Linked DNA regions of Homo sapiens. The protein of the gene in region 1 purifies or fractionates together with the protein of each later gene. This does not show direct contact. Each region holds a gene or a part of one and is shown in the gene's direction. Other genes may lie near its edges. The genes, in order: USP19, ACADSB, TMEM33, SPNS1, CSE1L, PDHA1 and NFE2L1.

Evidence for each region.
Region 2: the proteins of USP19 (region 1) and ACADSB purify together in Homo sapiens (affinity purification with mass spectrometry; one large-scale study listed by BioGRID and IntAct). This does not show direct contact.
Region 3: the proteins of USP19 (region 1) and TMEM33 purify together in Homo sapiens (affinity purification with mass spectrometry; one large-scale study listed by BioGRID and IntAct). This does not show direct contact.
Region 4: the proteins of USP19 (region 1) and SPNS1 purify together in Homo sapiens (co-immunoprecipitation; one large-scale study listed by IntAct). This does not show direct contact.
Region 5: the proteins of USP19 (region 1) and CSE1L purify together in Homo sapiens (affinity purification with mass spectrometry; one large-scale study listed by BioGRID and IntAct). This does not show direct contact.
Region 6: the proteins of USP19 (region 1) and PDHA1 purify together in Homo sapiens (affinity purification with mass spectrometry; one large-scale study listed by BioGRID and IntAct). This does not show direct contact.
Region 7: the proteins of USP19 (region 1) and NFE2L1 purify together in Homo sapiens (affinity purification with western blotting; one study listed by BioGRID). This does not show direct contact.

The regions. Positions count from the first base shown.
Region 1 is NC_000003.12:49,107,550-49,110,823, reverse strand, and holds the end of USP19 (ubiquitin carboxyl-terminal hydrolase 19), read left to right. Parts: coding exon 1-113; intron 114-219; coding exon 220-380; intron 381-461; coding exon 462-640; intron 641-1,638; coding exon of another isoform or gene 1,639-1,866; exon of another isoform or gene 1,867-2,151; intron 2,152-2,295; coding exon 2,296-2,412; 3' UTR 2,413-2,774; downstream 2,775-3,274. UniProt on the Homo sapiens protein: Deubiquitinating enzyme that regulates the degradation of various proteins by removing ubiquitin moieties, thereby preventing their proteasomal degradation. Stabilizes RNF123, which promotes CDKN1B degradation and contributes to cell proliferation.
Region 2 is NC_000010.11:123,015,506-123,019,005, forward strand, and holds part of ACADSB (short/branched chain specific acyl-CoA dehydrogenase, mitochondrial isoform 1 precursor), read left to right. Parts: intron 1-3,500. UniProt on the Homo sapiens protein: Short and branched chain specific acyl-CoA dehydrogenase that catalyzes the removal of one hydrogen from C-2 and C-3 of the fatty acyl-CoA thioester, resulting in the formation of trans-2-enoyl-CoA.
Region 3 is NC_000004.12:41,948,929-41,952,428, forward strand, and holds part of TMEM33 (transmembrane protein 33), read left to right. Parts: intron 1-373; coding exon 374-457; intron 458-3,500. UniProt on the Homo sapiens protein: Acts as a regulator of the tubular endoplasmic reticulum (ER) network by modulating intracellular calcium homeostasis. Mechanistically, stimulates PKD2 calcium-dependent activity. Suppresses the RTN3/4-induced formation of the ER tubules.
Region 4 is NC_000016.10:28,977,778-28,981,277, forward strand, and holds part of SPNS1 (protein spinster homolog 1), read left to right. Parts: intron 1-130; coding exon 131-267; intron 268-1,377; coding exon 1,378-1,529; intron 1,530-1,627; coding exon 1,628-1,694; intron 1,695-3,500. UniProt on the Homo sapiens protein: Plays a critical role in the phospholipid salvage pathway from lysosomes to the cytosol.
Region 5 is NC_000020.11:49,091,312-49,094,380, forward strand, and holds part of CSE1L (exportin-2), read left to right. Parts: intron 1-734; coding exon 735-816; intron 817-2,828; coding exon 2,829-2,975; intron 2,976-3,069. UniProt on the Homo sapiens protein: Export receptor for importin-alpha. Mediates importin-alpha re-export from the nucleus to the cytoplasm after import substrates (cargos) have been released into the nucleoplasm.
Region 6 is NC_000023.11:19,353,927-19,357,426, forward strand, and holds part of PDHA1 (pyruvate dehydrogenase E1 component subunit alpha, somatic form, mitochondrial isoform 1 precursor), read left to right. Parts: intron 1-564; coding exon 565-657; intron 658-1,422; coding exon 1,423-1,578; intron 1,579-1,759; coding exon 1,760-1,831; intron 1,832-3,500. UniProt on the Homo sapiens protein: The pyruvate dehydrogenase complex catalyzes the overall conversion of pyruvate to acetyl-CoA and CO(2), and thereby links the glycolytic pathway to the tricarboxylic cycle.
Region 7 is NC_000017.11:48,054,859-48,058,358, forward strand, and holds part of NFE2L1 (endoplasmic reticulum membrane sensor NFE2L1), read left to right. Parts: intron 1-1,527; coding exon 1,528-1,740; intron 1,741-2,173; coding exon 2,174-2,263; intron 2,264-2,485; coding exon 2,486-2,644; intron 2,645-3,436; coding exon 3,437-3,500.

The DNA.
Region 1 (3,274 bases):
CAGCTGTTGCTATGGCGCCTGCCAAATGTTCTCATCGTGCAGCTCAAGCGCTTCTCCTTTCGTAGTTTTATCTGGCGTGACAAGATCAATGACTTGGTGGAGTTCCCTGTTAGGTAAGCAGTGGACCTTGGTAACTGTGGGTGGGGTGTGAGGACCAGGATGGGCATCCTGAGCGCCTGTTGCCTGTCTCACCCCTCCCTGACTGGACCTGACCTGCAGGAACCTGGACCTGAGCAAGTTCTGCATTGGTCAGAAAGAGGAGCAGCTGCCCAGCTACGATCTATATGCTGTCATCAACCACTATGGAGGCATGATTGGTGGCCACTACACTGCCTGTGCACGCCTGCCCAATGATCGTAGCAGTCAGCGCAGTGACGTGGGTGAGGGCACACACAGCCAGCAGGATAGGTGGTAGGGGTGGTGGTGCAGACTTTGTTCACACTCTTCCCACCCTGCTGTAGGCTGGCGCTTGTTTGATGACAGCACAGTGACAACGGTAGACGAGAGCCAGGTTGTGACGCGTTATGCCTATGTACTCTTCTACCGCCGGCGGAACTCTCCTGTGGAGAGGCCCCCCAGGGCAGGTCACTCTGAGCACCACCCAGACCTAGGCCCTGCAGCTGAGGCTGCTGCCAGCCAGGTGAGGCATGTGGGAGGCTTTACAGAATACTGGGGGACAGTTCACAGACTGGGGCCGGGTTGGGGGATATAGCTTCCTCTCCTCCAGCCACAGGCCCATTGAGCCTTGGGATTCATGAGAATTGCAGAGTTCTCTTAACATCAAAGCTTTAGCCAGAGGCATCCCCATGCCTTGGGGACACTAACAAACATACAAGTACACTAACATGCTGCCACTGGCAAGCACATTGGCACCTACTTGGCACAGGTCAGGCAACTGCTCTGAACCTCACTGGGCACTATGCTGTGAATGAACTATACCTGACACTCTCCTAGATTTCCTCTGCACATTCCCCACATGCTGGCCCACACACCCTCACTTGTGATGTCCCTGAGTTCTAGTGTGCACTCAAGACAAGGCCTATTTGGGCTGGCCATGGCCTCTGGTGGCTGTTATACTCTTTGAGGTAAGCATCTGTCTTTGCTGAGCCTTCAGGATCTTCTCTTTAGTGACATGGTGTGCCATAGGCCCAGTTAGTGGGCGTAGGCACATCTCTTTTCTGGACTGGCCGTCTCCTTTCTGGCTCCATCCTCTCTTGAGCCTTCTCTGTCAAGCTTAGAGAAATCCTTGCAGAAGACTGGTCAGGATCTGGGTATGGGTGGGAAGGAGCAAGGAGATTGCTCTGGGATTGGCAGTCCTGTTCTCTATGAATCGGTGTCCTTTGGGGAGGCCTGGACTGAAATACTAACCAGATAACTCCCCTCCCACCTCCATGCGGAGCTGCATGTGGATTGAGAGCTGTTTAGGGTAGGCCAAAATGCTGTCAAGATTCTCTTACCCTTGTGCTCTTACTCTGGACAGCCCTGAGGTTGGCTGCCTGCCTTCCTCCTTGCTGTTTGATCTAGAATGCAGGGTGTTAGCCCCAGTCACCCCAGGTGGGACTGTCATGGCTAAGGGTCTCAGGGACACTGGGTCCTCCCCACCCCCGGGGTGCTGATGGCCGTTTCCACATACCCTAGGCTTCCCGGATTTGGCAGGAGCTGGAGGCTGAGGAGGAGCCGGTGCCTGAGGGGTCTGGGCCCCTGGGTCCCTGGGGGCCCCAAGACTGGGTGGGCCCCCTACCACGTGGCCCTACCACACCAGATGAGGGCTGCCTCCGGTACTTTGTCCTGGGCACCGTGGCGGCTTTGGTGGCCCTCGTGCTCAACGTGTTCTATCCTCTGGTATCCCAGAGTCGCTGGAGATGAGCTCGCCTGCAGGCAGCTGCTGTGAGCTGGCCTACCTGCCTGCCCCAGGCCATGCCTGCCTTTGTTGTGGGGAACACCTCTGGGCTTTGGGCCTCAGCTTATGCATCTGGTGGGAGAGGGTGGGGAGGTTGTGGCCCCTGCAGGGGCAGAGTATCCTAGGGTGTGTATCCATCTGGCTGTCTGTCCATTCATCCTGCTGCTCTGACCCTTGGCCTCAGGCTTGGCCCTGCCCAAGCTACTTCCTGTACTTAAAAGTGTTAATAAAACCAGACTATTCAGGCCCAATCTCGTCTCTCTGTCTCAACGCCGCTGCTGTCTGCGCCTGCCTTGGGACCCTCCCTTGGGTGCCAGGGCTCCAAGCCAGCACCCCCGGGATGCCAGGCGGCATGCTGGGCAGCCCCCAACCCCTGTCCTCGTATTCTGTTGCAGGGACTAGGCCCTGGCCAGGCCCCCGAGGTGGCCCCCACGCGGACAGCCCCTGAACGCTTCGCCCCCCCTGTGGATCGGCCAGCCCCCACCTACAGCAACATGGAGGAGGTGGATTAGCAGGTCCCTGGCTGATGGGGGGGACTGGGTTTGGGACACCCACACAGAGGGCCAGCTCCTTGCCGCTTCTCCTTCTCTAACCCAGAGGACACTGGCTCTGTCAATGGGAAGCTGAGGGGTATGATTTGGGTGTGGAGACCTCTCAGGTTGGGACTTCTTGTCAGCTTGGACCCCTGACCAGTGGGCTTTGGCTTCTCCAGCCGCCTCCAGTGCTGCGTGATTTGATTCTGTTGTACCTTCAATTCTTCTGACCCGCATTATAAACATTATAATTTTATTCTAAAAATTGTAATTTTTTTTGCATTTTGGAAGTGACTGCTGCTGTTTAAATATATTTTAAAAATAAATAATAAGTAAGTAGACTTAGTGACTGTGATCCACCACATGCTGGGGCCACCTCCCCTCCCCATCATTTGCGGTGTGTATGTGTGTGTATGTGTGTTTATATATGAGAGACCCTGAAAGTGCCCTAGTCTGAAGGGAGATGATGGGGTCCCAGCTCATGTCCTATGGGTCATGAAGCCCCCAGTGCTATCAGCTTTTTGGAGCCTACCTGCTGCTCTTTCATCCCACTGGTTCTGGATCCTACATAAGAGGCAGCTTGGTAGGCATCGTCAGGATCTCAATATAGCCAAGGGACAGAGGAGTATATGAAGCACTGGAGCTGACAGCGTGGAGTAAAAGGTGCATTCACCAGAGCAGCCTGGGGCTGACAAGTCAGGGAGGACTTGGGGGACAGAAGTACTGGGAGATCTTCCTCCTCCTCTCCTGTCCTCAGCTTTTTCTTTGCTGTAACTTGAACACTAACTGCATCCCTGCAGGTAACAGAGCAGGAGGAAAACTGCTGTGGGGCAGATCTTGC
Region 2 (3,500 bases), on another chromosome or scaffold:
GAGCTATGACAACCCAAAATGTCTCCATCCATGGCCAAATGTCCCGTGGGGGCAAAATTACTGGACTGAGAACCACGGATGTAGACCTGTGTAACAGTGTACTCCATGAAGGAGGGGAAAGGTGGCCTTTCTCCTTATAACCTGGTAGGGAACTTTCTCTCTAAAACTATTTGCCATACTCAGTTTGTTGGCTATAGAAATTGATCTACAGTTTCAAAGATTTTTGTTGAAAGATTTCAATAGCAGCCATTGAGATTTTAAGGTGCTGTTTGCAAAGGAGTTTACAAGATAAAACAGTCAGCAGCTCACAAAAGGAACTCATCACGTGAGACTCTGAAGCCACATCCCACTTAGACCATTTCACAAGTCCACTTTTAGAGTAACAAGGCCCTCAATGAGGGTGATAGCACCGATGATCAGAAAGGAAGACATGTTAATAAAAGAAGACTTGAGAAGATGTGGGAATTATCTTGAAATGGAGGAATTAGATGGACTACACATTTTCTAAATGAAATAGCTTAGTGATAGGCAAAGATTGGGACATCTGGAGAAAAAGTAATTTAGGGTGACAGAAGAAAGGTAATTCTGTTTTAGACACGTTTTAGGTATTAATAAAACTTACAACTGAAAGTGTCTTAGAAGCTGGTCAGAAATGGGTCTAGAAAGTGGACCAGTGCTAAAGCTATGGTAAAAGGAAAACTTCATCTGAATTAAATTTAAAGGAGTTTAATTGAGCAGCAAATTGGGCAGCCCCCAGAACCACAGCAGATTTGGAGAGACTCCAGGGATGCCTTGTGGTCATAACAAATTTATAGACAAATGAAGGGAAGTGACAAATCGGAAGTGAGGTACACAGTGGCTGGATTGGTTACAGATTTGCAATTGTCTTATTTGAACACAGTTAGAACACTCAGCAGTCCATGAGTGGTTGAAGGATGGCTGCTGGGATTGCCCAAGACGCAGCTACTGTTACAGGCGCATACTCCTAAGTTAGGCTTTCAATCTTGTCTACCTATTAAGCTAGGTTACAGTTCATCCACAAGGACTCAAATATAGACATACGGAGTCCTTCTCAGGCAATATTTAGTTTGCTTTAAGAGCTATAAATGCTAGCCAAAACCATAAATGGGTATGGGGCATCGGAAGGATAGTGAAGAAACAGGAGTGGACAAGTCAGCCTTTGGGGTACAGTTCAGACCATCCTGGGTAAATGTTGAGAAGCAAAGAAGCAAAAGGAGACTTAGTAGGATATCAGAGGAAATTCTGTGACATATGTGTTTTATTCAGAATTGGAGCAAAAGAAGGAAAAGGATATTTAAAAGCAAACATACAGAATTTGTGTCACATAAAAAAAACAAACCTGTGAGAGCAGAAGCGGTGTGTTTTGAGAAGTGCAAGACATGGCAGGGCCAGCTAATGGAGCTGGTGGAATGCATACTGAGGAGGTTGTGAACGTGGTTCATGCTCCCTTCACTCAATTTGGTAACCCCCTGTCCCCAGCCAGTGTTGAATATGCAACCCCTGATATGGAACTCTGGTCTTTTGGCATCTATTTAAGTGTTTCTTCTGACTATCTTCCCTGAAAAAGAGGGTGAGTTGAAGAAATTCCCAATGCCTGTTAAGTTGTTGGACCCAAGTAATTATGTGATTAAAAAAAAATTTAAACTCCATAATAGTCCTATCTTTTAAAATTTCTTTGAAAATAGAAGTGAGTGTCTTGTTTCATTTTTGTCCACTGGTAATTTGGGAAAGAGAAATTGTTGACTTGGCTAAGGTCACAATAAAGGCAAGCCCAACTCCTTTACCTTATATTTATTTATTTATTTTTTTGAGACAGAGTTTCATTCTTGTTGCCTAGGCTGGAGTGCAATGCGTGATCTCAGCTCACTGCAACCTCCTCTTCCCGGGTTCAAGTGATTCTCCTGCCTCAGCCTCCCAAGCAGCTGGGATTATAGGCACCTACCACCATGCCCGGCTAATTTTTGTATTTTTAGTAGAGACAGGATTTTACCATCTTGGTCAGGCTGGTCTGGAACTCCTGACCTCACGTGATCCATCCACCTAGGCCTCCCTAAGTGCTGGGATTACAGGTGTGAGCCACCTCACCGGGTGGACACAGTTTCTAATGGCCGGCATTTGCATGTCTAAGCTTGCTGTCCCAGCTTGAAGAGCCGGGCTTTCCTGCTAGACAAGAAACGTTCCTGGAGCTGCTTTAAAAGAAACAAAAACTTCCCAAGGACACCTTTTCCTCTCTATAGGCCTAAAATAATTTTTTAATAACTCCCATAATGAAAGTCGGGGGTGGCTTCCAGGCTATAGGTAAATTTAAACATTTTCTGGTTGACAATTGGTTGAGTTGGGCTAAAAACCTGGGGTGAATAGAAAGGAATGTCTGGGTTGTGATAAGAAGTTGTAGAGACCAAAGTTTAATCATGCAGATGAAGCCTCCAGGTAGCCGACTTCAGAGAGAATGGATTGAAATGCTTCTTATTAGGCCTAAAGTTCTGTGTTGATGTTCATGCTGGTGAGGTATAATGAGGTATGTTCGACCCCCACTTCCCATCATGGCCTGAAACAGTCTCTCAGGTGAAATTTTAAGACCCCTGGCTAGGGAGGAAGTCTGTTCAGCTGGTTTGGGGGGCCTTAGAATCTTATTTTTGGTTTACACATGATTAAAAAATACTTTAGCTCCATAATAATCCTATCTTTTAAAATTTCTTTGAAAATAGAAGTGAGTGTCTGGTTTCATTTTTGTCCACTGGTAATTTGGGAAAGAGAAATTGTTGACTTGGCCAAGGTCACACTACAGGCAAACCCATTTCCTTTGTGTTGATTCCCTTGCCTTGTGTCTTGTCTTGGCTTATTTAACCCTCTTTTGAGGGAATCACTATAATTCTTAAAAGGGCAAGGCATTGTTAGGAACTCCTAAAGACTAGAATGAAGAATCAGAGACTGGTAGATGGGAAAGGTTGCGTTTTTAGCAGTTTTGGAGAATACCTAGAACAGAAGCTATTATTTATGGAGAAAGCAAGCAGAGGTTGGACAGATTCTGGTATAGAAGTTTTGGCTTGGGGATATAAAATTGGGATCAACTTAAAATCTAATCCATTGGTACACTGCTAATAAAGGCATACCCAAGACTGGGTAATTTATAAAGAAAAAGAGATTTAATGGATTCGCAGTTCCACGTGGCTGACGAGGCCCCACAATTGTGGTGAGGAAGGTGAGGGAGGAGCAAAGGCACGTCTTACATAGCAGCAGGCAAGAGAGAAGTGCAGGGGAACTGCCCTTTATAAAACGATCAGATCTTGTGAGACTTATTCACTATCACGAGAACAACACAGGAACAACCCGCCCCCATGATTCAGTTACCTCCCACTGGGTCCCTCCCATGACACATGGGGATTATGGGAGCTACAATTCAAGATGAGATTTGGGTGGGGACACAGCCAAACCATATCAAGCAGGTATGAACAATTTGGCTTAGGAAATCAAAATCA
Region 3 (3,500 bases), on another chromosome or scaffold:
TCTTTTTATATATATAAAATAAGTCACTTTTCATTTGCATATTTTATGAAGCTTTACAACTTGATTTCATCAATTAGTAATTACGGAATTATTTAACATTTTCTGATTTATTTAGTATTTTAAAAAATTTCAAAAGTAATACAGATAAGAATACATTTATAAAAAAATTAAACAACATTTTACTCTTTACCAATCATGTACATTCTTTTATATCCTTTTTTAAGGATAACTTGGATTTAGACATGATAGATTTCACTATGACCATTTGATGAATGAAGATACACATATTCTCCAGTTGAATTGCTTTTAAGTTTTGAGAGTATACACATGAATTGAAATGTATATTTATCACGCTTGTATTTGTTTATTTCAGTGGTCAAGGAAGTTTGCTCCAACCTTTTATATACTATAGATTTCTTACCCTTCGATATTCGTCTCGAAGAAACCCATATTGTCGGTAAGCTGATGATTATTTTAGGCATGTTTTATTTGTTGAGAGTATTGTGAATATATAGTATTCGCAATTCTTAAGAGTTACTTAGCTAATGTGTTAGACTTTAGAAGCAAGCAGTGTTTTTGTAAATTTAAGTTCTAGGCCTTAGAATGTACTGGGGTTGGTGAGGAAGTGGTTGTATTTGTTCTTAGAAACTGAGACTGCAGTTATCTACGCCACCTCTAAAGCACTGCTAAAACTTAGCAAATTTTAAAATGTATAAGACATAGATTCCACTCTCAACTTTCCTAGTTGAAGAAACAAAACACGTGTCAATTAGATAAACAATGGTTAGGATACAGAATTCACAAGCCAATAGATAATGAATGCCATATGTTTGCTTTATTATATCAGTACTGCAGTCCACAGAAGGGAGAGATCATTGGGCCAGAAGATAGATGAGCCCAGGAAGGTTTCACAAAATTGAGATTGTGGGAGGAGTAAAGCTTTTGAATAGGGAAAAGCATTTTAGGTGGGGCAAGAGAGACGAGAAGCACAAGCCATATTTGAGGAACTTTATGTAGAGCTGTTTTGACTCTAATGGAGATTCTGAATGGCTAATTGCTGGAGCTAAGATTAGAAAGGTATATTGGAGCTATATTATAAAACTTCTTGAGTTTTAGGGTAAGAAGTTTGGAATTTATCTTTTAGGTGAATGGGAATGATGGTTTTGACATCGTCAGAATATTCTTCTGATACCCTTGTGCCAGAAGAGTTTGAAGCAGAAAAATGGGGAAGCAGAGAAATTTTAGGGAATTACTGTAGTTTTCAGGAATGGAGGCTTAAATTAATATACACTAAATTATGCATTCTGATCTCAAGCATTGGAGTAAAACTAAAATGATACTCAAATACTAATATTAAGATAATCTATTTTTAAGTTTAAAATAATGTAGAATTCAGCTAGAAATCCAATGAGTGCATTACAGCAATCTGTATATTTTCATAAGTACAGTAAAAAGAACTTGAATTTGAATGCTGGCCCATCATTAACTAGTTGTGTGACTAGGCAGGTTATTTATTTGGATTTCTTCATTGGTAGAGGAAATAACTCCTTCTGGGGGTGAAGCGAAGTAATATTTTAAAAGTACTTAGACTGTTATGTTCTTACTAGTTCATTTTCATTATTCTATGATCTGATTTTCTGTTCAGAGCGTTTTTATGCTCTATTAGACAATGTCTTTTTTATAATACTTTCTAAAATAGAACTTATTTTAGACATTCGTTCTTAGTGAGTCTCTAGTAGCAAATTAACATTCATTTTTACTTGATTTCTTGAGTTTTAGCCTTTTTTCTTTCTGGTCCCTATATTCATTTCAGACATTATCTTATATTCTCTTGCCCTGACATCTGTTATTTTAATCAGCATATTTGTTTTTCTGTGCTTCTTTGTGCCTCCTTCTCCATTCCCATTTTCTTCACATACCCTTAAATCATATTAGTACATCTAGAATTCAGTTTTCAGTGGACTGAAAAGGAAAGGATAGCAGTGAATCAAGATAACACAAATATGTGCTGGTAAACATCTTCAAAGCTGTCTTATAAGCACCCATTTTAACCAAACCAGTGGAAAGGTAATGGAAAATATTTCAGCTTGTAAATATTGATAAACAGGCTATAAAACTACATTTTCAGTACTACACTTTTTTTAATTAAAGGTTTTGAGACCATCTCTATTCACAATTTGTACCATTTTCACCTACGATATTTATTCTCAAGTTGGTGGTTTCAGTTGTTTTTGGATCTCTAGTGCAGATTGTCTATAGCTGTGCTGTCCAGTACAGCACAGCAACCACATTTGACCTTTAAATAAAATTCATAAAACTTAGAACTTGGTTCCTTTTGAGCACAGTTCAGGTGGGTACTCAAAAGCCATGTGTTGCTGATGGCAACTGTGGGTCAGCACACATATGCAAAAATTTTGTCATTACTCAAAGTTCTGTTGTCAGTGCTATTAAGGAACTCTCTGACTGGTCCTTCAGCACAGATATGCAAAAATTTTATCATTGTTCAAAGTTCTGTTGTCCGTGCTGTTAAGGAACTCTGACTTGGTCTGTGCCAGCGATGCAGCCAGTAATAAAAGAACTATGTGACTTTAGTGAAAGCGATTGACTTCATTAGTCCTCATGTCTTCTAGCTTTATTCATTTGACTGATTGGTTAAAACAGTGATTGTATGTTGATGAACTTATGTGGAATTAAAATATCTTCTTTCAGAGGTACTCACTGCTGAATAAATTAGACAGCTATGTAAGTCAGTGTGATGATGAAGGTGCTCTGAAAGCATAGAGAACAGACAGAGACAAATAAGAATTCACTGAGGAGGTGGGAACATAAGCCAAGTCTTTTAAAGAATGAGCCTGAGTTCTGACACATGGGTGCCTGAAAAGTGCTTAGCATACTTGAGCTCAGGAAGTATATAGAGAATTGATAAATATCTGTGTCCACAAAGGTAGATGGTAGAAAGGACTAGATCATGAAAGGGTTTGGATTTTATTTTGAGGTAAGGAGAGCCTTTGAAGATTGTAACATAGAGAGGCTGGGAACCCCCATGATGAAATCTGATTTAGAAATATTCCAGAAAATGGATTGCAAGCTCAGCAAGAGAAGAAAAATATCAATTTGGAGACTATTAGAGTAGTCTAGAGCCTGAATTAATCCAGTGGTAAAAGGAAAAGGGGACAAATATGAAAGGTATTAGGAGATAGGATATTAGGGCTTGAGAGAAAAGAGTAAATTAAAGACCCACAGGTTTCTGGCTTGGAAGCCTAAGAGTTGTAATGGTGCTCTCACGAAGACAGGAGATACAGGAAGGGCAGGTTTTGGAAAATTATGCATTACTCCAAATATTATTATTCCTGTCTTTCTGTGCAAGCATATTAAATACTTGTTTAGAAAAGTAGATTTGTTGCTTTTTTTCTAACCATAGAAGTAAAACAGGACACAAAAAGGTAGAATAGTAGTTGCATCTTTATACAGGATGAGTCAGCACATAAGGTGAAAATTGT
Region 4 (3,500 bases), on another chromosome or scaffold:
TGGGATGTGGGGGTGTTGTGAATTCTGTAAGGAGAAGGCAGGCATCTCCTGTGCTTTAGTGGTTCCAGCTGGGGTGGGAGTGGGAGGTAGGGGTACCTGGGCTGAGCTGTGACTCTCTGCTTCCCCCTAGTGTTCATCTCCAGTTACATGGTGTTGGCACCTGTGTTTGGCTACCTGGGTGACAGGTACAATCGGAAGTATCTCATGTGCGGGGGCATTGCCTTCTGGTCCCTGGTGACACTGGGGTCATCCTTCATCCCCGGAGAGGTGAGGCCCCAAGCTGGCTCCTGTTTCTGCCCACACCCCCTCCCTGTCAGTCTCTGCTGCTGCTCCTTGGAGCTATGGCAGACTGGGCCTCAGGGACTCCTGCAGTTTCCCTGGTCCATGCCATTTTATACCCCTCCTTGCCTGAGTTAACCTGCCCCACCCCATCCTCCCCTTTTCTTCCAGAGCATTCTCTGTCCATTATCCCCTCTTCCCCTGACCACTGACTCCTTCTACTCCATACCTAAACACTCCAAACCCTACCTGGCCTGCCCTCTCTCCCTCCTCTCATTCCTGATCAGACTTCCTGAAGGGCCCCTAGAGCGTGGTGCCAGTGTGGGTAAAAGAGCAGCCGGGGAGATGCCATCACTCTGCCTGCACTTCCTCACGCCTGCTCACCCCTCGAGCGCTGCCACTGACTTCTGCTCCCACCACTCCACGGACCCTGCTCTTGCCAAAGTTAACAGTGGCCTCCTAGTTGCTAAACACAGCTCCAACTTCCTGGTCCTGTTCATGCTAGGAGCCTCTGGCACTGTTGACCCACTCTTCCTTCCTGAAACTCTCTCCTACCTTTGCGATGCCACACTCTTCTGGCTTTCCTCCTGCCTCCCTGGCTGTTGCTTCTTTGTTCCTTTGAAGCCTCCTCTGTCTGTTCTCACTCCACCCCAGAACTCTGTCCTCAGCCCCAGGACCTACGTACTTTCCTTGGGTGACTGTACCCGTCCTTAGCTTCAGGTGCCTTTGGTAGACACATAAACTCCCATCTAAGGTCACTTATTCATTAAAAAAAAAAAATTAAAAAACTTTCCCCTACCAGGCAAGCAGGGGTTGTCTTATTTAGACCTTTTATTGTCTAGTCCTTGCAATAGCTCTGTGAAAAGTTGTTGTTATCCTCCTTTTGCAGATGAGGAAACTGAGGCTCAGAGAGGTTAAGTTATTTTCCCCAAATCGCAGCTAGTAAGTGGTGGAGCCAGGATGCAAGCTCAGGTCTGTGTGATTCTAAAACCCAGGCATCTCCCGCCATCCCTGCTGCCTCTTGGGAGCGGGCTGGTGAGGTAGCCCGGAGGCTGGTTGCAGGCTGGGGTGCCACCTCTCCCCGGTCTCTCTCCCCAGCATTTCTGGCTGCTCCTCCTGACCCGGGGCCTGGTGGGGGTCGGGGAGGCCAGTTATTCCACCATCGCGCCCACTCTCATTGCCGACCTCTTTGTGGCCGACCAGCGGAGCCGGATGCTCAGCATCTTCTACTTTGCCATTCCGGTGGGCAGGTGAGTGGGCCTGGGGCCTGGGGGAAGGCAGAAGGGCCTGGTGTGGGGGACTGGACTGACTGGCTGTCCCCCCTTTTTCCCCTCTCTCCCTCCCACAGTGGTCTGGGCTACATTGCAGGCTCCAAAGTGAAGGATATGGCTGGAGACTGGCACTGGGCTCTGAGGGTGAGTCTGGTCTTGGCCTGGGGGTAGGTCAGCGACGTTCTCACTGATCCCTGTTTCCTACCTTTGGACCCCTTCCCACCGCCCATTTTTCTTTTAAGAGACAGGGTCTTGTTGTGTCACCCAGGCTGCAGTGCAGTGGTGCAGTCATAGCTCACTGTAGCCTGGAACGCCTGAGCTCAAGTGATCCTCCCACCTCAGCCTCCCAAGTAGCTGGGACTATAGGTGCCCGCCACCATGCCTGGCTAATTAAAAAAACTTTTTCTTTTTGTAGGCTGGGTGTGGTGGCTAACACCTGTATCCCAGCATTTTGGGAGGCTGAGGCAGGTGGATCACTTGAGGTCAGGAATTCAAGACCAGCCTGGCCAACATGGTGAAACCCTGTCTCTACTAAAAATACAAAAATTAGCTGGGCGTGGTGGTGCATGCCTGTAATCCCAGCTACTCGGGGGGCTGAGGTAGGAGAATCACTTGAACCCAGGAGGCGGAGGTTGCAGCAAGCTGAGATTGTGCCACTGCACTCTAGCCTGGGCGACAGTGCGAGACTCCTTCTCAAAAAAAAAAAAAAAAAATTTTGCCAGGCATGATGGCTCACGCCTATAATCCCAGCACTTTGGGAGGCTGAGGTGGGCGGATCACCTGAGGTCAGGAGTTCTAGGCCAGCTTGACCAACATGGTGAAACCCTGTCTCTACTAAAAATACATAATTAGCCAGGCATGGTGACGCATGCCTGTAATCTCAGCTACTCGGGAGGCTGAGGCAGGAGAATCGCTTGAACCCGGGAGGCAGAGGTTGCAGTGAGCAGAGATCGTGCCATTGCACACACAAAATTTTTTTTTTTTGTAGAGATGGGGTCTTTGTATGTTGCCCAGGTTGGTTTTGAACTCCTGGCCTCAAGCAATCCTCTTGCCTTGGCCTCCTAAAGTGCTGGGCTTACGGGTGTGAGCCATGCGCCTGGCTCCAAATACCCCTTTTTTGGGGCAGCTCTCATTCTGCTGAGCCTGCAGGAGACTGGCTGCCCTCACCTGGAAGCCATGTGCTAGACAGAATTCTTGCGTGCAGGTGACAGAAGCCCATTGTAAAACTGTAAGCCCCCTAGAGGCCGGGTGCGGTGGCTCACACCTGTAATTCCAGCACTTTGGGAGGCCAAGGTGGGTGGATCACAAGGTCAGGAGATTGAGACCACCCTGGCTAACACAGTGAAATCCCGTCTCTACTAAAAATACAAAAAAAAATTAGCTGGGCGTGGTGGCAGGTGCCTGTAGTCCCAGCTACTCAGGAGGCCGAGGCAGGAGAATGGCGTGAACCCAGTAGGCGGAGGTTGCAGTGAGCCGAGATCGCACCACTGCACTCCAGCCTGGGTGACAGAGTGAGACTCTGTCTCGAAAACAAACAAACAAACAAACAAACAAACCGTAAGCCCCCTAAAGGGGCTGTCTTGGCTTTCTTCCTGAAAGTCCCAGGTGAGCTTCAGTCAGGTAAAGCTGGATCCAGGGCTCCCACACTGCCCTTCTCTTCTGAGCTTTACTTTCCTTTGTGTTAACATCATTCTTAAGGACGTGAGAACTCCAGATGATTACCTTTCCATTTAGCAACATTGGCACCTTGGACCCTGGGGCCGTGTTTCCAGGATAGCGTCTGACTAGATGAACATGCATCACGTGCCCTCTGCGGAATCCGTCACCGAGGCTGGGGTGGTTAACAGTCCTCTTGTTGGCCAAGCCTGGGATCCTATTTAAACCAAGTGGATTGAGAGAAGTAGGGGTACTGGTTTCCCAAAAGAAAATTACCAAAGAGGAGACAAAGCT
Region 5 (3,069 bases), on another chromosome or scaffold:
CTGCTTGGGAGGCTGAAGTAGGAGCATCACCTAAGTCCCAGAGGTTGAGGCTGCAGTGAGCCAAGATTACACCCACTGCACTCCATCCTAGGTGACAGAGTGAGACCCTGTCTCAAAAAAAAAAAAGAAAATATTGTAAGGGCCTGGTGCAGTGGCTCTCATCTGTAATCCCAGCACTTTGGGAGGTGAAAGTGGGAGTATTCCTTGAGTCCAGGAGTTAACGACCAGCCTGGGCAACATGGTAAGACCCTGTCTCTACAAAACAGCCAAGCATGGTGGTGTGTGCCTGTAGCCCCAGCTACTCAGGAGGCTGAGGTGGGAGGATCACTTGACCCTGGGAAGTTAAGGCTGCGTGAGCTGTGATCACGCTCCTGCACCCAGCCTAGGTGATAGAGTGAAACCTTCTCACAAGAAAAAAGAAAATATTTTAAGATGTTTGTGTTCTCCAAACATTAAGTTAGTGTTAGTCATATTGTGTTCCAGAGGTTGGTTTATGGTTGGATACCAAAACATTTTTTCAGTAGAGAGAATATTATAAGGAAATATAAATCAAAGAGAGACAGCATGTAAAGGTCTATGACAGAAAGACAAGTTTTCTATTTACTAGAAGGCAGGTATTGATGCCACAGCCTTTGGATGTTAATGATTAAGCATAGGTTTATTTTGCAGACTTATCAGTTACCAGTTTAGTGCGTGAGTTCTCTATGCTGATATTCTGCATCTTCTTTCAACAGGTTTTTTAGTCTTTATTAATTTGTATTGCATAAAATATGGGGCACTAGCACTACAAGAAATATTTGATGGTATACAACCAAAGTAAGTTTGTTTTTATTATTTTTTAAAGGAAGAAAATGTTTTGACTTTTTTTTTAGTACAAATCAGTATCTCTGTCTTATAGATGATGATGTGGTTCTTGGTATGGAGATAGTGTCTATGGTTTTCAAAATATTCTTAGGTATTGGGAGTAAAGAAAAAGTAATCCTGGCCCAGCATGGTGGCTCACGCCCGTAATCCCACACTCTGAGAGGCTGAGGAGGGCGGATTTAGCTCAGGAGTTTGAGACCAGCCTGGGCAATATAGTGAGACTCCATCTCAAAAAAAGAAAAAACACCCTGGAATCATTGTTCTAATCCTCTAGATTAGAGGACCATCTACTCTACACACTGGCATTCTCCACAGCCAGTGTTCTATATTATGTTAAATGGTCAGTGTTGTCTCCAGGAGCCTGCCTTATTAAAACTAACAGCAGAAAACACCACATGTTCTCACTCATAGGTGGGAATTGAACAATGAGAACACTTGGACACAGGGCGGGGAACATCACACTCTGGGGCCTGTCGTGGGATGGGGGGCAGGGGAAGGGAGGGCAGAGGGAGGGATAGCATTAGCAGAAATACCTAATGTAAATGACGAGTTAATGGGTGCAGTAAACCAACTTGGCACATGTATACATATGTAACAAACCTGCACGTTGTGCACATGTACCCTAGAACTTAAAGTATAATTAAAAAAAAAAACCAGAATTTTCCTTCCCCCTTTTTTAAAAAATCGTGCTAATCCATATCGTTCCAATTTTAGTATATGTGCTGCTAATGCAAACACAGCAGAATTTTTCAAATGAGAAATACTTAGGACCAATAAATTAACTTTGTTTTTGACTTATCTGGTATATATGCAAAGAATGTATTTAGGTGGCATTTCCCATTAGTAGGGAATAAAACAATTATAACGATAAGATAAAGAACAACTCTTAGGGAAAATTTCTTCGGGGACAGTTAGATCCCTGTACCTCAGTTATGTCTCAAAAATTCTACATTGACTAAAAAATGAATTACTCTGGAAAGGAGACCAGAAAACATGGCTTCCGGCAGTAGGGGATTTTGAGGAAATCTCATGCACTGCTAGTGGGAGCCTGAATTAGCCTGATCTTTCTAGAGAGCAAAATGTATGCACTTTTTATCCAGAGCATTAGAATTGCCATACCCTTTGAGCCATATTTCCACTTCAAAGAATTGGTTCTATTAACGCATAAACTGAGGATTTTGCATCATTTAGAATTACGGAAAACTTCACTTCTAGCATGTTTGCAACAACATAGAATGATTGGCCGAATTATTTTAAATAGCCATTAGCATTTATGTACCTGCAGGTATGTAAGCAAAGACAGTTGGGAAGCTTATAACCCAAAAATGTTAAAACTAGTTGTTTCTGGGTGGTGGGATGATTCCTTTTTTCCCTCCTTGCTCCTCTCTCTTTTTTTTTTTTTTTTCTTTTTTTTTTTTGAGACTGGCCAGGTGTAATTTTTAAAGAAAAAAGCAGAGAGGGCCAGGAATGGTGGCTCACGCCTGTAATCCTAGCACTTTGGGAGGCTGAGGCAGGTGGATCACCTGAGGTCAGGAGTTCGAGATCAGCCTGGCCAACACAATGAAACCCCATCTCTACTAAAAATACAAAAATTTGCCGGGCGTGGTGGTGGGCACCTGTAATCCCACCTACTCAGGGGGCTGAGGCAGGCAAATTGCTTGAACCCAGGAGGTGGAGGTTGTAGTGAGCTGAGATCACACCGTTCCACTCCAGCCTGGGCAACAAGAGCGAAACTCCGTCTCAAAAAAAAAAAGAAAAGAAAAAGATTATGGCATTTGGCTACAGGGTAGAGGTGTGATGGGGTTTTTTTATGTTTTGACTTTCAGTCTCTTCAGATGATCAAAAACAGCAGTCTTGTTATTTAGTAATTTATCATATTCATAAGAAGTAACTAACATCTAAGCATTTTACTATTTCATTATAGTGATAATCTAATATTAAGTTGATTTATTTTGCTTTAATAGAATGTTTGGAATGGTTTTGGAAAAAATTATTATTCCTGAAATTCAGAAGGTATCTGGAAATGTAGAGAAAAAGATCTGTGCGGTTGGCATAACCAAATTACTAACAGAATGTCCCCCAATGATGGACACTGAGTATACCAAACTGTGGTAAGTACTTCATTTTAATATTTTTGTAAGTTACAGCTTCCTTCCCATATGACTGCAAAATTAACAAAGCTTATTCTCTTGGGGGCCAAGAGAA
Region 6 (3,500 bases), on another chromosome or scaffold:
GTGTTGTTTTTTTTTAAACCTAGGTTTTATTTTTCCTTTTGAAATGGAGTCTTGCTCAGCCGCCCAGGCTGGAGCAGTGGTGTAATCTCAGCTCACTGCAACCTCCACCCCCGGGTTCAAGCAATTCTCCTGCCTCAGCCTCCCGAGTAGCTGGGAATATAGTTACGTGCCACCATGCCCAACCATTTTTTGTATTTTTAGTAGAGACGGGGTTTCACCATCTTGTCCAGGATGGTCTCGATCTGTGGACCTCGTGATCTGCCCAAAGTGCTGGGATTACAGGCGTGAGCCACCACGCCCGGCCAGGTTTTATTTTTTAACTCTTGAATGCAGAAATGTTAGTGCTTACTGGTTAAAATAGAACATAGTATTTATATATTACTTTAGTGCTTTATTGAAAATATCGGAGGTGGGATAAACAGAGAGATAGGGTTGGAAGGAGAGTTTGTAGCAGCAGTGTAATTTCTGTGTCAGATTCTGGCCAGGAGTGAAAATGCAGGGCATTAATTAGTATCTCCCCTCATGGATTTCTGTGGTTCCTTTCTCGGTTGTCCTTAATGTTAGGTGCCCCTGGGCGCTGGGATTGCTCTAGCCTGTAAGTATAATGGAAAAGATGAGGTCTGCCTGACTTTATATGGCGATGGTGCTGCTAACCAGGTAATTATGTCTCTTAACTTCCCAAAAACAGTCTTATTTTCAAAGTCTTTAATATTTACAGTTGAATTTCTAAAGAAGTAGCATATTGCTTATTAGGTGAAATAGCAAGTCCTATGGCTAGCTCAAATTTGGTTGACTTATGGCCAGATTAGAGATTGACCTCTTAGCGTTGTTTCACAAGAGACTTACGGGGGCACATTCCTGTGAAGGAGCTCACCTTTGCTCTACATCAGTGCTTGGCAAAGGCCCTGTGGTAAAGGACCTCCCCACAACCTATTGCAAAACAATACAGACCCATTCTCTTGGATGTCCGGGCTGGCAGTGTCAAATTCGGATAATAGCGTCTGAGTCCTAACTCAGTTTCTATGCTTCTCTTGTTACCGAGTAATCCCCAGTCTGTGGCCAGCACTCTGTGAAGCCCTGTTCTAGAGGCTGATTCTTAGGTGCTGGTTCACTCTGGCTATCCAGTGGGCCTGATAGATTTCATATTGATCTTTTTTCCAGTGTGTTCCTTACTGCTAGCATGGCCCCAAAGAAACAAGTAGTAGTTGGTTTGTCACCTTCCTTAGTTGCAAGAGTATGATGCCTGCTACTTCTCCTCCACCACCCACCCCGCTTTCCCTCACCACCCAAAGCTCGGTTTTAGAAGAGGAGGCTTTCTGTGCTTTATGAAAGCTTTCTGTGCCAGGCAGAGCAGCAGCTGTTAGAGATGATGAAGCCTGGAGAAAGAAGCCAAATGAAACCCCTTTTCGTAACTACTTCCAGGGCCAGATATTCGAAGCTTACAACATGGCAGCTTTGTGGAAATTACCTTGTATTTTCATCTGTGAGAATAATCGCTATGGAATGGGAACGTCTGTTGAGAGAGCGGCAGCCAGCACTGATTACTACAAGAGAGGCGATTTCATTCCTGGGCTGAGAGTAAGGACACCTGTGGTGGGGCCGGGGCCAAGGCCAAGGCCAAGGGTATGTCCTTGTGCAGACCCTTGACGATCTTAGAAACATTGGAGAGTTTCATTCTCATACAGGAGCAGGTCATGTGAAAGTAAAATGGTTTGGGGCAGTTGGATTCATGCTTCGCCCCTCCCCTGTTTATTACCAGGTGGATGGAATGGATATCCTGTGCGTCCGAGAGGCAACAAGGTTTGCTGCTGCCTATTGTAGATCTGGGAAGGTAAGGCTCTAAAGCCCTCTGGGCTAGTGACATTTATCTCTGGAAGTTCAAAGACTGCCTCCCATGTGCCTGCTGAAGCTGTTAGTGGGTACCTGCTAATTGAGGTGCATGAGATGGAAGCAGAGTGAAGGGAGCAGGGCTCCTTTGGGTAGCTTGGTCTTGGTAGCTCACCTGCTGGGAAGCCTACGTTTCTCTCATTTGGGGGAAGTCCGTTCTGGTGCTTCCTCTGCTTTGGCCTGTCTTCATGACAACTGATTTGCCTTTTCCTTAGGTTAATTCTGTCCCTCCTCCCCACCCCCCATTAATCATGAGTCCCTTGAAGGAACAGATTGGGGATCCCCACAGTGTCCAGCATAGAATGTCATGTATACAATAGGCATTTAATATGTGTGTCTTATACAAATTAAACAGTATGGTAGAAGCTCGTAATCTTAGTCTTGCTCAGTCCTAAGGATCTTTCCCTTTTCAGTGTATGGCAGTGAGGGAGATGGTAAGAGGGAGACTGGCCTAAAGAGGTTTCACTTCCTTTGGCACTAGTATAGGCTTAGGAGGTTTGGGTGTTCTCCCTAAATCAGTGTTCTACAGCCCAGAAACAAGGTTTCTGAAGTTGGCACTTCAGCGCCATACCATGTACGTTTAGGCAGTGATGTGAATCAGATGTGGCCAGCAATGATGGAAATGTCACAAAGTGGAGAGACAGGGAAGTGAGGGTGGGAATGTAGTAACATTAAATAAGAGCTAATGAGTAGAATGAACTAGAGCAGGACCAAGACTACAGCTTGGGTACAATGGGCTGAGCAGTCTATGTCAGGACCCTAAGGCTGGGAGTGCCAGGCCCTGAGTGATGGGTATTGACGCCACCTCTCCCAATTCCTGAAAAGAATACATGGGGGCCAGCCCTGGCTGGAGACAAGGGGAGTTGTAGAATGTAGTTGTAGAATGTGTGACTTTCCCAAACAGATAACCTTCACAATTCTGAGTTAGGTGTTATTGTTTTGCCCATTTTGCAGACAAGGAAACTGAGCCATAGAGCAGTTAAAGGTACACAGCTACTCTGTCTTGGAGCCAGCTCCCCACTCGCCCATTTTAACTGCTGCACCAAACCAACCAAGGATCCTCAATGTTTCTCCACCCCAGTGTTCAGAGCCGTCTCCTGGAAGTGGGCTAGTGTAGAATGAGCGAGCCCAACTGTCCAGACTCCCAGCAGAGCCTTGGGGTTTGGGTAGCAGAGGTTGTTGGTGCCTGCCAACTTTGTTACACACTAGCAAGGTCTGTGAAGTAGGAGTGGCTGCCAGCCCCACAACACACCATGAGAAAGGAGCATGAGATGGAAATCTGTCTAGCCAATAGCAGGAGGCTCTAGAACATGCTCAGAGCCTTTTTCTTTTTTCACAGGGTCTCGCGCAGTGGCACACTCACAGCTCACTGCACCCTTGACCTTCCAGAATCAGGTGATCCTCCCAAGTAGCTGGGACTACAGGCGCACGCCACCATGCCTGGCTAATTTTTGTATTTTTTGATAGAGATGGGGTTTTGCCATGTTGTCCAGGCTAGTCTCGAACTCCTGGGCGCAAGTGCTCTGCCCACCTCAGCTTCCCAAAGTGCTGGGATTACAGGCATGAGCCACCATGCCTGGCCTTCAAAGCCTTTTTGATTCAAAACAAGCTGT
Region 7 (3,500 bases), on another chromosome or scaffold:
CGCCCAGGCAGCAGCACGGGCGGGGCACCCTCCTCAGGCCCCTCGGAGCTAGCAAGGGGCCACCCTTCCAGCCTGGTGTGCTCCCTGAAAGCCAAGAGCTCCTTGCAGCCCCCTGTCCGGCTTCCCGGCACCGGCTGCCCTGGGGCTCATCTCGCAGACCATGACCCGCCTGGACCGCAGCTCTCACAGTGGTGGGGGCCATGCCAAAGGCAGCCGGCCCCTTAACTCTTTGCTGGCTGGTCACCGGGTGGCCCAGCCCGCCTCTGCTCCTGGGTCCAGGGCTTCTGTTCAGGTTGGTGTATGTGGGGAGACTAAAGTAGTACGTCTGGGAGGTCTTAGGGTCAGGGGGGGTTAATGGGAGAAGAATACCGACTTAGAGGTAGGGAGGAGGGTCTGATCTAAGGAAATTGCTTTCTGGAAAGTGTATGTCTGCATTTTAACCCCTGGATGGAAGGCAACACTTTAGGGTTTCTTCAGGCTTGTAGGGAGGGCTCGACTACAGGGGGGTGCCATGTATAGGAAGCCCAAATAGCTCTATTTATTGGGGTTATATGCTGTTAGTGGGGGTGGCAGTTGGTGCAGCAACTGTTCACGAGCCACCAGGGTAGAGCGGGAGGGAAGCATTTTTGGTGCCCAAGGTGGCAGTTGTAGCTGAGCAGTGATGGGGTTTATGTCCTTGAGGGGGTTGACTGATGGGGATTTGGTGAGTCCTGGGGTATGGTGAGGGAATGAGAGCACTGGTGTAGGGGACACAGTGAGGCTGGCCCGAGCAGGGGGTGGGGTGCACCCCTGGGGATCATCTGACTGCCTGAGCCTCCCTGGAATGGAGGCAGCAGCTAGGATCAGCTGAGAGGGAATTCTGGCGGGGATGAGTCTTGAGGTGAGCCTGGGCTTGAGGAGTTGTGGGTGTTCAGCCTTACTCTTGCTGCCAGCTGGGGAATGGGGAATGGCTATAGGAAGGGCTGGAGACAGCATGGCGTTGTCATTGGTTGCATCAGGTGGTTGGAAATGCAGGGATTTTCCTCTCTAGCCCACCCCACCCCTTTATGCAAATGAAATGGTACCACAGGCTGATGCAAGCCTGGCCACTGCTAAGTAATTCTGCATGACAATTCGCTCTTGCTTGCCATGGCCAGCTTCCTCCAAACCAAGTTTTAAGGGGTCCAATCCCCAAAGCTAGAGGTGTCTCCTGATGTTCCCCTTCTTTCTTATGTAGGGGGGAGGCGGCCCTGCCTTTTGTCTGGGTGTGTCTTGGTCCAGATCCTAATCCTTTGCACCCTTATGGTGATAGTCACACTAATGGTTTTGCTAGTGGCTCTTTTTTTTTGTGGGAAGGGGATAGTGTCTGGAAGTAGATGAATGAACACTTGCTGGTGCAGGGACCAGGGGGTAAAGGCTGGCAGGTGAAGAGCTGGGAGGGGCCCCACCCAGGACTAACTGGGGTGACACTAGGAGGGAACTCTGAGGGGCAGGACAAGGAAGGGACCTTGGGATCTTAGAGCTAAAGTCATGTGATCTGTCTTTCAGGACATAGATCTGATTGACATCCTTTGGCGACAGGATATTGATCTGGGGGCTGGGCGTGAGGTTTTTGACTATAGTCACCGCCAGAAGGAGCAGGATGTGGAGAAGGAGCTGCGAGATGGAGGCGAGCAGGACACCTGGGCAGGCGAGGGCGCGGAAGCTCTGGCACGGAACCTGCTAGTGGATGGAGAGACTGGGGAGAGCTTCCCTGCACAGGTACCATCGCCCCTGCTCACTGGGCTCTCTTCTTGTCCCTACTACCCTGACACAAACCAGGCTGGAGTTCTTCCAGAAACTTCCTTTAGAGAAGACAGGTGGTGTGTGGGGTGGACCTGAATTTCTGTTTTGGGTTGGGGTCTGTAAGTCACAGTGGCTGAGCCTTGGAAGGGGGGAGTGGAAAGCAGCAGATGCAGAATGGCCAGGCCGTGGCAACAGACAGTGCAAGGGAGGCAGAGCATGTAGCATCTTCCTGCTTGCTTCAGGACTCTTTCACTCTCTTCTGTTGTTTCTGGGAGTTTGGGACTCGGGGCCAGCCATTAGCCTGGGAATGGGAGGGAGACTGCAGGGCTTCAGCCATTCTGGGAAAGAAGCTTCAGCCCCAGGCAGCCAAGGCCCAGGTCAATCAGACTTACAGTTCCTGTTGCCACAGGTGCCTAGTGGGGAGGACCAGACGGCCCTGTCCCTGGAAGAGTGCCTTAGGCTGCTGGAAGCCACCTGCCCCTTTGGGGAGAATGCTGAGGTGAGCAGGACTCCAGTGAGAGTCCACCAAGTGAGCAGGGCAGCCTGTACCTGGTGTGTCCCTCCATGGCTGAGGGGCCAGCTGTTGGTTCTGGCCTTATTCTGGCTGCTGGGGGTAAATGCAGAGGAAGGAAGAACAGAAACAGGTCCAGGTGGTAATCTCTGGGAGGAAAGCACAAGGTTTTTCCTTCCCCCTTGTTAAAGCCTCTGTGTTTTGCCCTAGTTTCCAGCAGACATTTCCAGCATAACAGAAGCAGTGCCTAGTGAGAGTGAGCCCCCTGCTCTTCAAAACAACCTCTTGTCTCCTCTTCTGACCGGGACAGAGTCACCATTTGATTTGGAACAGCAGTGGCAAGATCTCATGTCCATCATGGAAATGCAGGTAGGATTGTCGGAACCGGGCACAAACCTATTGGATTTTGCACAGATTGTCTTAGCACTCAGTTGCTTTTCCATCTCCAAGGAGAGAAAGTGTAATACTTTCCCTGAATCATAGAGAAGTGGGGACAATGAGAAGAAACCTGTCCAGGTGTGTCCTTGGGGCAATGGGAGCTGGAGACAGGTAGGGTTTGGGTTAAATAAAACTCAGGACTCAGCCTTCCAAATCAGGGCCTGCCTCCTGGGTGTGCCTTCTTCCTTTCCTTCAGGCAGATAGGCACTTGGCTGAATGCTTCCAAGGTTGTGCGTTAATAATAGCTGACATTCACATGGTGCTTCACAGCCATCGTTCGCTCACTTGGCCCTCACAGTCATCTAGTCAGCCTTTATCTCAAAGGTGAGGAAATTGAAGCTCAGAGGTTAAATGATGTGCCCATCGTCACACAGCAAGTGGTGCAGCTAGGTTTTCTGACTTAAGTCTGGGTGTTCTTTTCACTGTGCTGATTTTGCAGTAACAAGGTAGTGTTTTCTTCCTCTCCCTCCAAGATGGGGGAGTCTGGCCAAACATGAGGAAAAGCTGATCAGTCCTATATTAGGGTGGAGCCTACATGGAAGAACCCATCTCTGCCAGGCCTGGTGGACGAAGCTGGGTCAGGAGCTGACACTGTGGGCTTTGGTTTATAGTATTTTGCCTTTACACCCATGCAGCTGTGCCTCTGTTGGGTGCCTGCAGTGTGTGAGCCCCAGGGGAGGGAGTCAGTTCCTAGTGAACAGTGGTGCTCTTCTCCCCTCCCAGGCCATGGAAGTGAACACATCAGCAAGTGAAATCCTGTACAGTGCCCCTCCTGGAGACCCACTGA